3 linked regions of the Homo sapiens genome follow. The protein of the gene in region 1 purifies or fractionates together with the protein of each later gene. This does not show direct contact. Each region holds a gene or a part of one and is shown in the gene's direction. Other genes may lie near its edges.

Region 1 (3,748 bases):
GGTAACAGTGAGCCGAGATTGCACCATTGCATTCCAGCCTGGGCAACAAGTGAAACTCTGTCTCAAAAGAAAAAGGGCTCTCCAACAGGTTTTCTGCTTCCATTTCTGCTTTCCACTGGGTCCAAGAAGGTTTCTCCCTCTTCAAGTCATTGTGCAGTTTATTCTGCTCTACTTCTCTAAAGCACAGGACCCTGTTGTTTCACATAGCCTTTGCCTCACCAGTGTTGCCAAACTTCAGCTCCCCACGCTGGGCAACCTGCGCCTGTGCACCATTCAGGTGATGATCTGTCATCTCACAAGGGCTCCAACAGATGCTGGGACCGCCTTTGAGACAGAATGCCAGGCACACTTCTGATATGTGAAAGTATTTCCACCCTTGCAATAATTTAAGAAACATCCGGGCCAGGCGCAGTGGCCCACGCCTGTAATCCCAGCACTTTGGGAGGCCGAGGCGGGCGGATCACGAGGTCAGGAGATCGAGACCATCCTGGCTAACATGGTGAAACCCCGTCTCTACTAAAAATACAAAAAAATTAGCCGGGTGAGGTGGCGGGCGCCTGTAGTTCCCAGCTACTCGGGAGGCTGAGGCAGGAGAATGGCGTGAACCCGTGAGGCGGAGCTTACAGTGAGCCGAGATCGCGCCACTGCACTCCAGCCTGGGCGACAGAGCGAGACTCCGTCTCAAAAAAAAAAAAAAGAAAAAGAAAAAGTAAAAAAAAAAGAAACATCCAGGAATGCACTCATAGCCTGTAAGTTTTTGGTGAAGCTGGTCAGTAATTTTTCCCACACTATCCTGTTTCCTTTTCCCAGATTCCTCCGGGTCTCTCACCTTCCCCTCTTTGCTTACCAACACTGGCCATGTTAATCCTTACCTACTCTACACTGACACCTACATGTGTCTATTTAGAATGGATGTCCTCTGGTCTCTGCCGTCTTATTTCAAATAAGTGTTGATCAGTCGGGAAACACGTCTTGGACACTGATTTCTGGCTAGTACATTGTGTACTTGTATGCAGGAAAGCAAAAAGTATCTAATGAAAGCAGCCCTCCTCCGGAGTTTGCTGAGCCACAGGAACCATAAGCCAAATCCCAGGCGCTTGGATTTCTTAAGAAACAGCCAAGTCTTTGTGTCTGCTTCTCTGGACCCACCGCAGCCCTGGCCAGAGGCAGGCATGGGGCGCCACGTTGAGAGAGCTTCCTAGAGGACTCACCGTTGGCCGGTGCAGGCTGCAAAATGTGCGCAGTGGCGGAGAGACGCTCCTCCAGCCATGTGCACGGCGACAATCCCAGGTAGAGCTGGAATGCAGGCTGCCCCGAGATCCCCACCTGCTGACGCTTCCCCGGCAGGAATCGGTTAAACGGAACCTCTAGTCATCTCGGTTTTAGAGCGGTCTTCACGCCACAGCCCTCCGCGCCCAGGTCCTCCGAAGTTGGGACACCGCCCACGTTTCCCCCGTGACGCGGGCGCGGGGGCTCGGGAGTTGTAGTCTCGGGCAGGGCGCGGGCACCGAGGCCGGGGCTGCGCGGACTCCACGTCCCGGCGGGCGGCGCGGCGAGGCCTGGGGCCTCCAGGGGCGGGGCCGCTCGGCCCTTTAAACCTTTCAGGGCTGCTCCGAGGGCCGCAGCTAGAGTCGGCGCCACGAGGGGGCCGAGCAGGGTGCGGCGGCGGCGGGGCGCTCCGGGGAGGTGCGTACTGGGCTCCTTCCCTTCCTCCGGGCTTCCAGGAATCACCTGGGGACTCTCGCGTCCCGGGTCCTGGGGGGTCGCCGGCCGCAGGGTCCGGCCCCAGCCGGGGTCCCCGCGCCCAGGCGAGCGGGGGCCGGGCCGGGCTGGGCTTTCCGCGTGAACCCGCCCCTCGCCCAGGGCGCCGATGGTCAGGTGGTTGCCTGCGCGCCGCCGACTCGCCACCGCTCCACTGGGCCGGCACCCAGCCTCTCCTTGGCGTGGCCTCTTCGGTTGTCCAGCCCTTCTCCCAGCCCTGGTCCCTCAGAAGGAGGGTAACTCCCTTCCAGATGTTACGGTCCGCCTGCGTCTCTCAGCACGCCGGTGGCATTTGGGTTGACCGCGGAGGCCCCCAGTGCCAGAGGGTGTTCACGTTCTGCCGTGGGCTCAGCCCAAACTTTGGACGCTCAGAGACCCAACGGGAGCGCTGGATAAGGTGTTGACCCCCTTCCCCTCCCCCTTCCCGGCCAGTTACCCACTCCTGGACTTTGATCTCTCTCCACCAGGCCAGGACAGCTGATGGTTGTGGCAGAAACATCTCAAGGTAGCTGGTCCGCCCCCACTTCCCCATCTACCTCTTGTCCTCCCCCCAACACCACCACCACCCTGGCTCCCCTCCCTCATGACCGCCTGGATCCTCCTGCCTGTCAGCCTGTCAGCGTTCTCCATCACTGGCATATGGACTGTGTGAGTAAAGGGGGGTGCCCGGGGGGCAACAGGAGCTTGATGACGCACACAAAGTCTCTTGTCCTGTCATAGCCACGGTGGTACCCAGGGTCACTCTGGGTGTCTCAAAAGCCTGACTTGGTGCCTGGGCACACAGCCCCTTGGGACAAGCTGGCACCACTGCTGTCCAGCAGGGTGGCCCTGACAAATATACTTCTAGCCAGGGCAATTTCCAGAGGGCCTGTAGCTGGGGGCATGCTGCAGGTGCTGGTGTGGCATCAAGCCTTAGGGACCTCAACTTGAGTCCCCAGCAACAATAATGAGGCTGAATGGGGCCAGAAATCAAGGTTGAAGAGAAGGGTCATGGGGTGGGTTGAGTGGGGCTCGGGAAGGCTGCCAGGGTGACAGTTCTGTTCCCACAGGTATGCCATGGCTGTGATGAACCACCATGTATGCCCTGTGGAGAACTGGTATGAAGGACTCTGCAGACAACCTTGCTCTAAAGCTTCCTTCATCTCTGTCCCCTCTTGGGCCTGAGGCTGCCACGAGCCAGACTGCAACCCTGAGCCTCACTGCTCTTCTCTGAAATTGGTCCCCAGGCATGGCTTCTTGCCACCTACCCACTTCCCACTATCCCTTTGCCCCTTTGGTTACTGCTTCAGGCGGGCACTGGGGAGTGGGATCTTCTGTCCCTGTAGGGGAGGTCTGGGAGAGAGTCCTCTTTGAGGCCTGAGGCTATAGGCCAAGGGCCTGGGGGCAGTCCCTTCCCCCAGTCTACTCCCTGTCCTGCCTGCCAGGTCCTACAACGAGTCCTGCCCTCCTGACCCTGCTGAGCAAGGGGGTCCCAAGACCTGCTGCACCCTGGACGATGTCCCCCTCATCAGGTAAGGCCTGGACATTGGGCCGGTCAGGGAGATCTAAGGGCCTCCCAGACAGCCCCTCAAGCAAAGAGCTGTCCTTGGGTCTCAGGAACAATAAGTATCCTAAGAGCCACTTAATAACAACACTACTTGACAGTTACTGTGGGGCAGGCACTCTGCTGAGTGCTTTATATGCATTGTCTCTTTTCATCCTCCCAGGAGTGAGGCAGGTATTGTTTTCACCATTTTATAGGTGAGGAAACAGGCTCAGTCTTCCTCATCCAGGTCACACAGCTAATAAGCGGAGGCACCTGGATTTAAGCTGGAGCCCTCAGATTGCCCAGCCCGTGTTCTGGCTCAAGGATAGCCAAACCAGCCGCAGGGCTCAGCAAAGAGTGTCAGGGTTGCCCGAACACTCCTGGGCACTCCCTTCTCTCTCACACACATGAGCTCTGCTTTGGGGGCCCAGCCTGGAACCAGTTGTTCATGAGGGACCCTGG
Region 2 (3,748 bases), on another chromosome or scaffold:
GTTAATCTGAAGCTGCAGAATATAATGATGCTACTTCGTAAATGTTGTAATCATCCATATTTGATTGAATATCCTATAGACCCTGTTACACAAGAATTTAAGGTGAATACTGTTTAATTCTAATTTACTGTTTTGATTTCCATTACTTTTATATTGGTGGAAAGTGTTACTTTTTTTGATTATAATTATTAAAAATAAGTATGGTGCTATTTGTCATGAAGATTGTAATCCTTCAGTAAGCTGAGACAGTCTTCTTTCCGAAATTTCAGAGAACCTTATCAGGGTTAGAAAAATGGTCACTTTCTATGAGCAACTAGTTTTTTAAATTTTTTTATTTTTTATAGAGACAGGGTCTTGCTATGTTTCTCAGGCTGGTCTCAAACTTCCTGGTTTCTCAGGCAATCCTGCCTCAGCTTCCCAGAGTGCTAGGATTACAGGCAAGAGCCACCACGCTTGGCCTCTATGCAACTTATATTTTTATTTACATATTTTATGTGAACAACTAAGAATTCTAAATTTAGTAATTGATTTGTACTCTGCATGTTTACTTGTTATATTTTAGAGAGAGTGGTCATCTTTTCACTATTTCTTTTATCATTAATATTTGGCTTATCAAAATCAGCCTGGTTGCTCATTGCTTAAAGATCAACAGGTAGCCATAGAATAAAACCAGTTTTGATTTGGAGGTTTTCAAATTAAGTAAATGAAGTTGCTTTCTTGGGTAGTTGATAGAATGATAGCATAATATCAATAGAAATAAATTCTTAGTAACCCTCAATCACAGTTGTTTCAAGGTAGTTTACAATAGGCTTTTCCACTCCTGGCAATATTGACATTTTGGGCCAGATAATTCTTTCTTAGGAGGTAATGTTCTGTGCACTTAGGACATTTAGCAGCATCCCTGTCTTCTACCCATTAGATGCCACTAGTATTCACTTCCCTCAGTTATGACAACTAAAAAGTTTGCTGCCGCTGCCAAATATACCCTGGGGATAGGTGGAGGGCAAAATTGTCCCCATTTGAGAGGCACTGCTTTACATCTTTATTAGAGTAAGAAGGAAGACAAAACTTTCCCACTCAAATGAAAGTAGCTCTCTCATGAGGGAATTTCACCAGAAGGTGAAAAAGTCTTTGTCCACAATATTTAGATTACTTATCAGCTCCTGTATTTTCTCTTAATTTCTGGTAAGAATTCTAGCAGTAGTTTACATATACATTTAGTTGGAAATAACTCACTTATAAAGAATAAGCCTGAGTATGTACCCATTAAGTTTGACATAATTGTTTTCTTTCACAATGACTTTGAGAGAGGAGTGTTGAGGTTAGATCAAAGTTATATTTGTACTTTGTTTTTGTGAAATTGCTGGTTTTACATTCTAGAGTATGTCTTTGAGTAATAACTATCTTCTGATTTTACAAAGATTGAATAACAGGTCAGTTTTTAAGTTTTTTAAGTGACTTGGCTTTGAAAATTGAACTTTCCAAATGGCTTTTGTTTTAACAAAGCAAATAACAGTTTTCTCTCTATTTTTTCTTCCTTTGCCCCTCCTTAAGATCGATGAAGAATTGGTAACAAATTCTGGGAAGTTCTTGATTTTGGATCGAATGCTGCCAGAACTAAAAAAAAGAGGTCACAAGGTGGTACTTTTGATTGGAATTTTGGATTGTTCAATTATTTTTTTATCAATCATTAGAAATATTAAGATATGTTTAATTTCAGGTGCTGCTTTTTTCACAAATGACAAGCATGTTGGACATTTTGATGGATTACTGCCATCTCAGAGATTTCAACTTCAGCAGGCTTGATGGGTCCATGTCTTACTCAGAGAGAGAAAAAAACGTAAGACTACTTATGTCATACATACCAAACTATTCTTTTATAATTCCTATCTTGATTTCTGAAGTAATATTCCAAATAGACCCACAAATTGATAAAAAGATAGAAATGACCAGAAACCCTGTGGTTTTATCAAAAACAAACATTTTGATTTAGTACTAAGAAGTCTTAATTTTTGATTCACAAATATATATATCTTCTGGCACAATCTTATTAATAATATCCTACTTAACCATCACTGTAAGAATATTGGGATAGCAGGAAATTTTTTGCCTTTTTGCCCTGTCCTCAACTTTCTATTATGAAAATATCAACTATATGGCAAAGTTGAAAAAAAAAAAGCAACTGTAAATCCGCCTACAATCTGCTGTTAACATTTGACTATACCTTTTTAAAAACACATTTCCTGTAATAGCAGCCTTGCTGTATCCATTCAGCATTTAATCCTGGTTTTTTGGTGCATTTAAAAATAAAATATAGATGATACTACCCTTTTCCGTAATGACTTCAGCATATTTTATCTTTTGGGGTAAAATTTACACATACTGAAGCAAATAATGTATACATTTGCTGAATCTTTCTGACAAATGCATATGTAAATTTATACCTAACCCCTATTAAGATATAGAATGTTACCATCAGCCCAGAAAGTTTCCTGTGCCCCCTTCTAGTCAATTCTCCCCTGCACCCACCCCATGTGTTTAGACAACTACAATTTTTTCATCATTTTTTGATATTAGCTTTTCTTATTTAAACATTGTTGTGATACATGGTTTTTAACAAAATTAAGATCTCTTTAATATAGGTGCTTGGACGATAAAGCTAACAGCACAGGTTTTGTTAACATAATTGTTTTATAGATCTGAATGATTTGTTTGGCCTCCTTTGTTTAAGTCTTTAATAGTTGTAATTGAAAACATTTTTCTCCTTCAGTCTTGTTGGTTAATTTATTTTAATCTGTTGTATTTACATCCTTTTTGCTTTTAGATGCACAGCTTCAACACGGATCCAGAGGTGTTTATCTTCTTAGTGAGTACACGAGCTGGTGGCCTGGGCATTAATCTGACTGCAGCAGATACAGTTATCATTTATGATAGTGATTGGGTAAGTTGGAAGTATAGCAAGGAATATGCTGATTATATTTCCATTTTGAATTTTTTTTTTTTTTTGAAATGGAGTCTCACTCTGTTGCCCAGGCTGGAGTGCAGTGGCACGATCTCGGCTCACTGCAACCTTCACCTCCTGGGTTCAAGTGATTCTCTTGCCTCAGCCCCCTGAGTAGCTGTGACTATAGGTGTACACCACAATGCCTGGCTAATTTTTGTGTTTTTAGTAGAGACGGGGTTTTGCCATGTTGGCCAGGCTCTCTTGAATCCTGACCTCAGGTGATCCGCCCACCTCGGCCTCCCAAAGTGCTGGCATTACAGGCTTGAGCCACCACACCCAGCCTCCATTCTGAATTTTTTTTTTTTTTTTTTTTTGAGAAGGAGTTTTGCTCTTGTTGCCCAGGCTGGGATTAAGTGCTGGGATTACCAGCATGAGCCACCGCGCCCGGCCATTCTGAATTTTTAATTTTTAATGGTACATGTTACAAATTTACTTATCTATTTTGAAAAGATACCCATTTTCAGCTAAGAGTTATTTCTTCATAAAGTTTTTTGCAAGTAAAAATTGAAAATTTTTTTTTACTTTTGTTTTTAGTGACAGGGTCTCACTATCACCCAGGCTTGAGTGCAGTGGCACCATCACGGCTCAGTAGCCTTGACCTTTTGGATTCAAGTGATCCTCCCACCTCATTCTCTCAAGTAGCTGGGTCTATGGGTGTGCTACCATGCCCACAAAAAATGTAAAAATTAGTGAGACCACGTCTCACTGTTTGCCCACGCTGGTCTTGTATCCTCATATGATCCT
Region 3 (3,748 bases), on another chromosome or scaffold:
GTGTCCTTTCTTTTTTCATCTCACACATTAATGTCTCTCTAGCCTTGGCCGGCTCTCGAATCCTTGCCTAACTTGACTTCTTCCACGTCTACATCCGTGTCCACGTCCTCTCGCATTGCTAATCTCTCTTTTTATAAGAGCTGTTGCTAACAGATTGGCCTTTTTCCTTAAGTCTTTGTTTTTCTTTTTCCTTCCTGAGTTCTCCTGCTTCTATGGCCACCTGGCGGGGCCAGGCAGTGGCACAGGCCCTGCCCCCGCGCACTGCTGTCTCTCCCATTTTCTTCTGATTCTCTTTTTTACACTTACTGTGAGTCTTTCTTTTTGTTTTGCTCTTCTCTTGGCACCGGTCTCTAGCCTCCTCTTTTTTTCTAGATAGAGCTGAGCCGGGGAGAGGAATTTAACCCTTGGCGTGCCTAGCTGCCGCACTTGTTGCTTTTGCTCTTTCCTGTTTTGTTCCTTGGTCACAGCTAACATACGCCTTGGTGGCCACTTTTATAGACTGGGTGATATTCATGCCTGTAGCTTCTGCTTGATGTTACCCTGGGCTTGCTTTACAAACGAAGTATTCACTATATATATATTTATATATATATTTACATATATTTTTTTACATATATATGTAAATATATATATTTACGTGTATATATTTCTATATATTTACATATATTTGTATATATATATTTATATATATTTTTTCGAATATATATATATGCTGATTTTTTTTTTTTTTTTGAGATGGAGTCTCGCTCTGTTGCCAAGGCTGGAGTGCAGTGGTGTGATCTCGGCTCACTGCAAACTCCACCTCCCAGGTTCACACAATTCTCCTGCCTCAGCCTCCCGAGTAGCTGGGACTACAGCTACCCGCCACCACGCCCAGCTAATTTTTTTGTGTTTTTTTTTTTTTAGTAGAGACAGGGTTTCACCATGTTAGCCAGGATGGTCTCGATCTCCTGACCTCTTGATCTGCCCACCTCGGCCTTCCAAAGGGCTGGGATTATAGGCGTGAGCCACCAGCCTCAGGGTTAAATAGGATGTAAAGCCAGAATGCTTTACAGAGTCTCTTATAAAACTGACTTAGGCTCTTGTCAGCTCCTTGAAGCACTTCTGAAATCTTTTTTATATTAATTGCTTTTTTTCTACTACCTCTTAGCCTCTGCAGAAGTGCCTCTTAGTACTGCTGCAAATGCTGAAGCTGAGTTGCATTCTCTGGGTCTTTTTTCCCCTTTTTCCTAGATCTTAACAGGCCCTTTTTTAAATATAATTCTCCATGCAGTTGGAGGGTTAAACAGGCATACTGAGAGTCAGTGTAAATGTTTAGTCTTACCTTCACTGAGTTCTAAGGCCTGAATTAAAGCAATGAGCTCAGCTTAACGACAGTGTCCAGGGTTATCACTGCATATCCTGCACATCTCTCTCCTTGTGGGTTGATGAAGCTGCTCCCGTCCATGTATAGCTCCCAGTCTACTGATGCCCAAGGCTGGTCTCGGAGGTCAGGTCTGCTAGAGTAAACTTGAGTCCAACACCTCTACACAGTTAATGCTCGACAGGGCTCTAGCTGCTGGGAACAAGGTGGCGGGTTCAGGGTGTTTCCAGTTTAGTAGATCAATGGTTAAAAAGGGCTGATAGATGAAAGTCTGTTGCCCCACCCCCTGGATGTGGGCTTGGTCATTATAATAGACAGGTCCTCGTGTCTCCCTGAGAGGCATTTGCATAGCTCCAGCAAGACCAGATCTGAGAGGGCCCACTTGACTATCTTGACTTCCTTCCTTGGCCTCTTGAGGCTCCGATCTTCCCCTTCAAGGTGAGACCTGGGGCATGTTAGCTCCTTAATCTCGTTTCTCAGGGGGCTGTTGGCCTCGGTAAAGGGGGGTAGGCTGGGCCATATGGAGAAAGAATTTCTGTTATCTCTGGCGGCTCCTGCAAAACTGGCTTCTCTTGCTCTTTCTGGGACTCCCCTTTTCAACTCTGTGTCTGCTGGTGCAGCTGTTCTTACTTTCACTTTTGGCTTTTTTGCAATAAGCTGTTAAACAGGGCTAAATTTATGCTGGTTTTTGTCTATATTATATTTAACCATGAATCAATATAAAGGAATTGATCTAGGTCCACTGGCTGTCCTCCAACCCCTGTCACCACCTTAAATACATGGCCAATTGTTCCCTGTCTGTAGTTCCTTCGGTGGGCCATCCAACACCAAAAGAGGGCAATTCTTTTTTTTTTTTCTTTTTTTTGAGACGGAGTCTCGCTCTGTTGCCCAGGCTGGAGTGCAGTGGCACAATCTCCACTCACTGCAAGCTCCGCCTGCCAGGTTCATGCAATTCTCCTGCCTCAGCCTCTTGAGTAGCTGGGACTACAGGTGCCCGCCAGCACGCCTGGCTAATTTTTTGTTTTTGTATTTTTAGTAGAGATGGGGTTTCACCCTATTAGTCAGGATGGTCTCAATCTCCTGACCTCGTGATCTGCCCGCCTCGGCCTCCCAAAGTGCTGGGATTATAGGCGTGAGCCACCGCGCCCAGCAAAAGAGGGCAATTCTAATTCACATAGAGTTCTTAACCTCTGGGGGCTTAACCTCTGTAATCCCCTGCAAAACCTTTCTTAAGGTTCTGTAACATGCATTTTAATAGAGTAAGTTTTGATGATTAGATGACTTTCCTTTTATTTTTCTTCTTGAAATTTTTTTTTAACACAGTTTCTAGCGGAGTGGGCTTACTTTGTGTTTGACCTATTTTTCTCTTGAGACAAAACAACATTCACACTACAAGAAGGAAAGGGTAAAAGGTTACTCACTCGTCTAATTCACACTAAAGGAAAATCAAAACTAAAACCAAAGTGTCATTAAAGGCACACCTGTTTGTCAAGGAATTTAAGCCAAGTCAAAATCAGAACCAAAGCCAAAGTGCCAATAAAGGCACGCCTGTTTATCAAGTAATTCAAGTCAAGTCAAAAACAAAAACCAAAGTATCAAGCATTTCAAGTCAAGTCAAAAACAAAAACCAAAGTGCCGGTACAGGCACGCCATGGGTGATCAGGCCACGCTTCCACTCAAATGGAGTGTGCAAGTTCCAAAGACCAGTCTTACCAAGTTTCAAATGTCCAGACTTAAAGTGCTAGTTCCTTCCCAGTGTTCAGCCACTGCGTTGATCCTCCACGGGGGCTTGCCATGCACCACTCTGACGAGGCATTCCACGGGGGCAAATGCCTACCCGGGAGCACTCTCAGGATCTGCATCGCGCAAGCTGGCTGGAGCCCCCCACAGGGATGCTCTACAGGGCAGGCATAAGCTGCCTAAGGGGCTGGCTTGAACGTCCCTTAATCACCTCGCTTCTCAGTCAGGGAACCAAGAAATGTAGCAGGACGAGCTGCAGACAAAACTCCTCAGACACCGGATTAAAGAAGAAAGAGGTTTATTCGGCCGGAAGCACTGGCAGACTTGTGGCTTAAGAGCGGAGCCCCCCGAAAAAGAAATTCTTGGCCTGTTTAAAGGCTTACAACTTTAAGGGGTCCATGTGAAAGGGTCGTGATAAATCGAGCAAGTGTGGGAAACGTGACTGGGGGCTACATGGATCAGCTAACAGAACAGAAAGTTTTGCAATGCTTTTTCATACAATGTCTGGAATTTAAAGATAACACAAGTAGTTTAGGTCAGGGGTTGATGTTATTATTATTATTATTATTATTTTAACTCCTAGGGCCACGTGGTGGTGCCAAGGTTGTCTGGCTATTTATCTTACTTTTGTTTCTTTCTAACTTT

What was found.
Region 2: the proteins of TMEM150A (region 1) and HELLS purify together in Homo sapiens (affinity purification with mass spectrometry; 2 studies listed by BioGRID and IntAct, with this or other methods). This does not show direct contact.
Region 3: the proteins of TMEM150A (region 1) and ACOX3 purify together in Homo sapiens (affinity purification with mass spectrometry; 3 studies listed by BioGRID and IntAct, with this or other methods). This does not show direct contact.

Annotation. Positions count from the first base shown.
Region 1 is NC_000002.12:85,600,545-85,604,292, reverse strand, and holds the start of TMEM150A (transmembrane protein 150A isoform 1 precursor), read left to right. Parts: upstream 1-1,594; 5' UTR 1,595-1,686; intron 1,687-1,898; exon of another isoform or gene 1,899-2,228; 5' UTR 2,229-2,344; coding exon 2,345-2,409; intron 2,410-2,523; exon of another isoform or gene 2,524-2,735; intron 2,736-2,810; coding exon 2,811-2,858; exon of another isoform or gene 2,859-3,185; coding exon 3,186-3,272; intron 3,273-3,501; exon of another isoform or gene 3,502-3,734; coding exon of another isoform or gene 3,735-3,748. UniProt on the Homo sapiens protein: Regulates localization of phosphatidylinositol 4-kinase (PI4K) to the plasma membrane, possibly by reducing the association of TTC7 (TTC7A or TTC7B) with the PI4K complex. Acts as a regulator of phosphatidylinositol 4-phosphate (PtdIns(4)P) synthesis.
Region 2 is NC_000010.11:94,590,675-94,594,422, forward strand, and holds part of HELLS (lymphoid-specific helicase), read left to right. Parts: coding exon 1-102; intron 103-1,554; coding exon 1,555-1,638; intron 1,639-1,720; coding exon 1,721-1,840; intron 1,841-2,824; coding exon 2,825-2,941; intron 2,942-3,748. UniProt on the Homo sapiens protein: Plays an essential role in normal development and survival. Involved in regulation of the expansion or survival of lymphoid cells. Required for de novo or maintenance DNA methylation. May control silencing of the imprinted CDKN1C gene through DNA methylation.
Region 3 is NC_000004.12:8,433,976-8,437,723, reverse strand, and holds part of ACOX3 (peroxisomal acyl-coenzyme A oxidase 3), read left to right. Parts: intron 1-1,756; exon of another isoform or gene 1,757-1,801; intron 1,802-3,748. UniProt on the Homo sapiens protein: Oxidizes the CoA-esters of 2-methyl-branched fatty acids.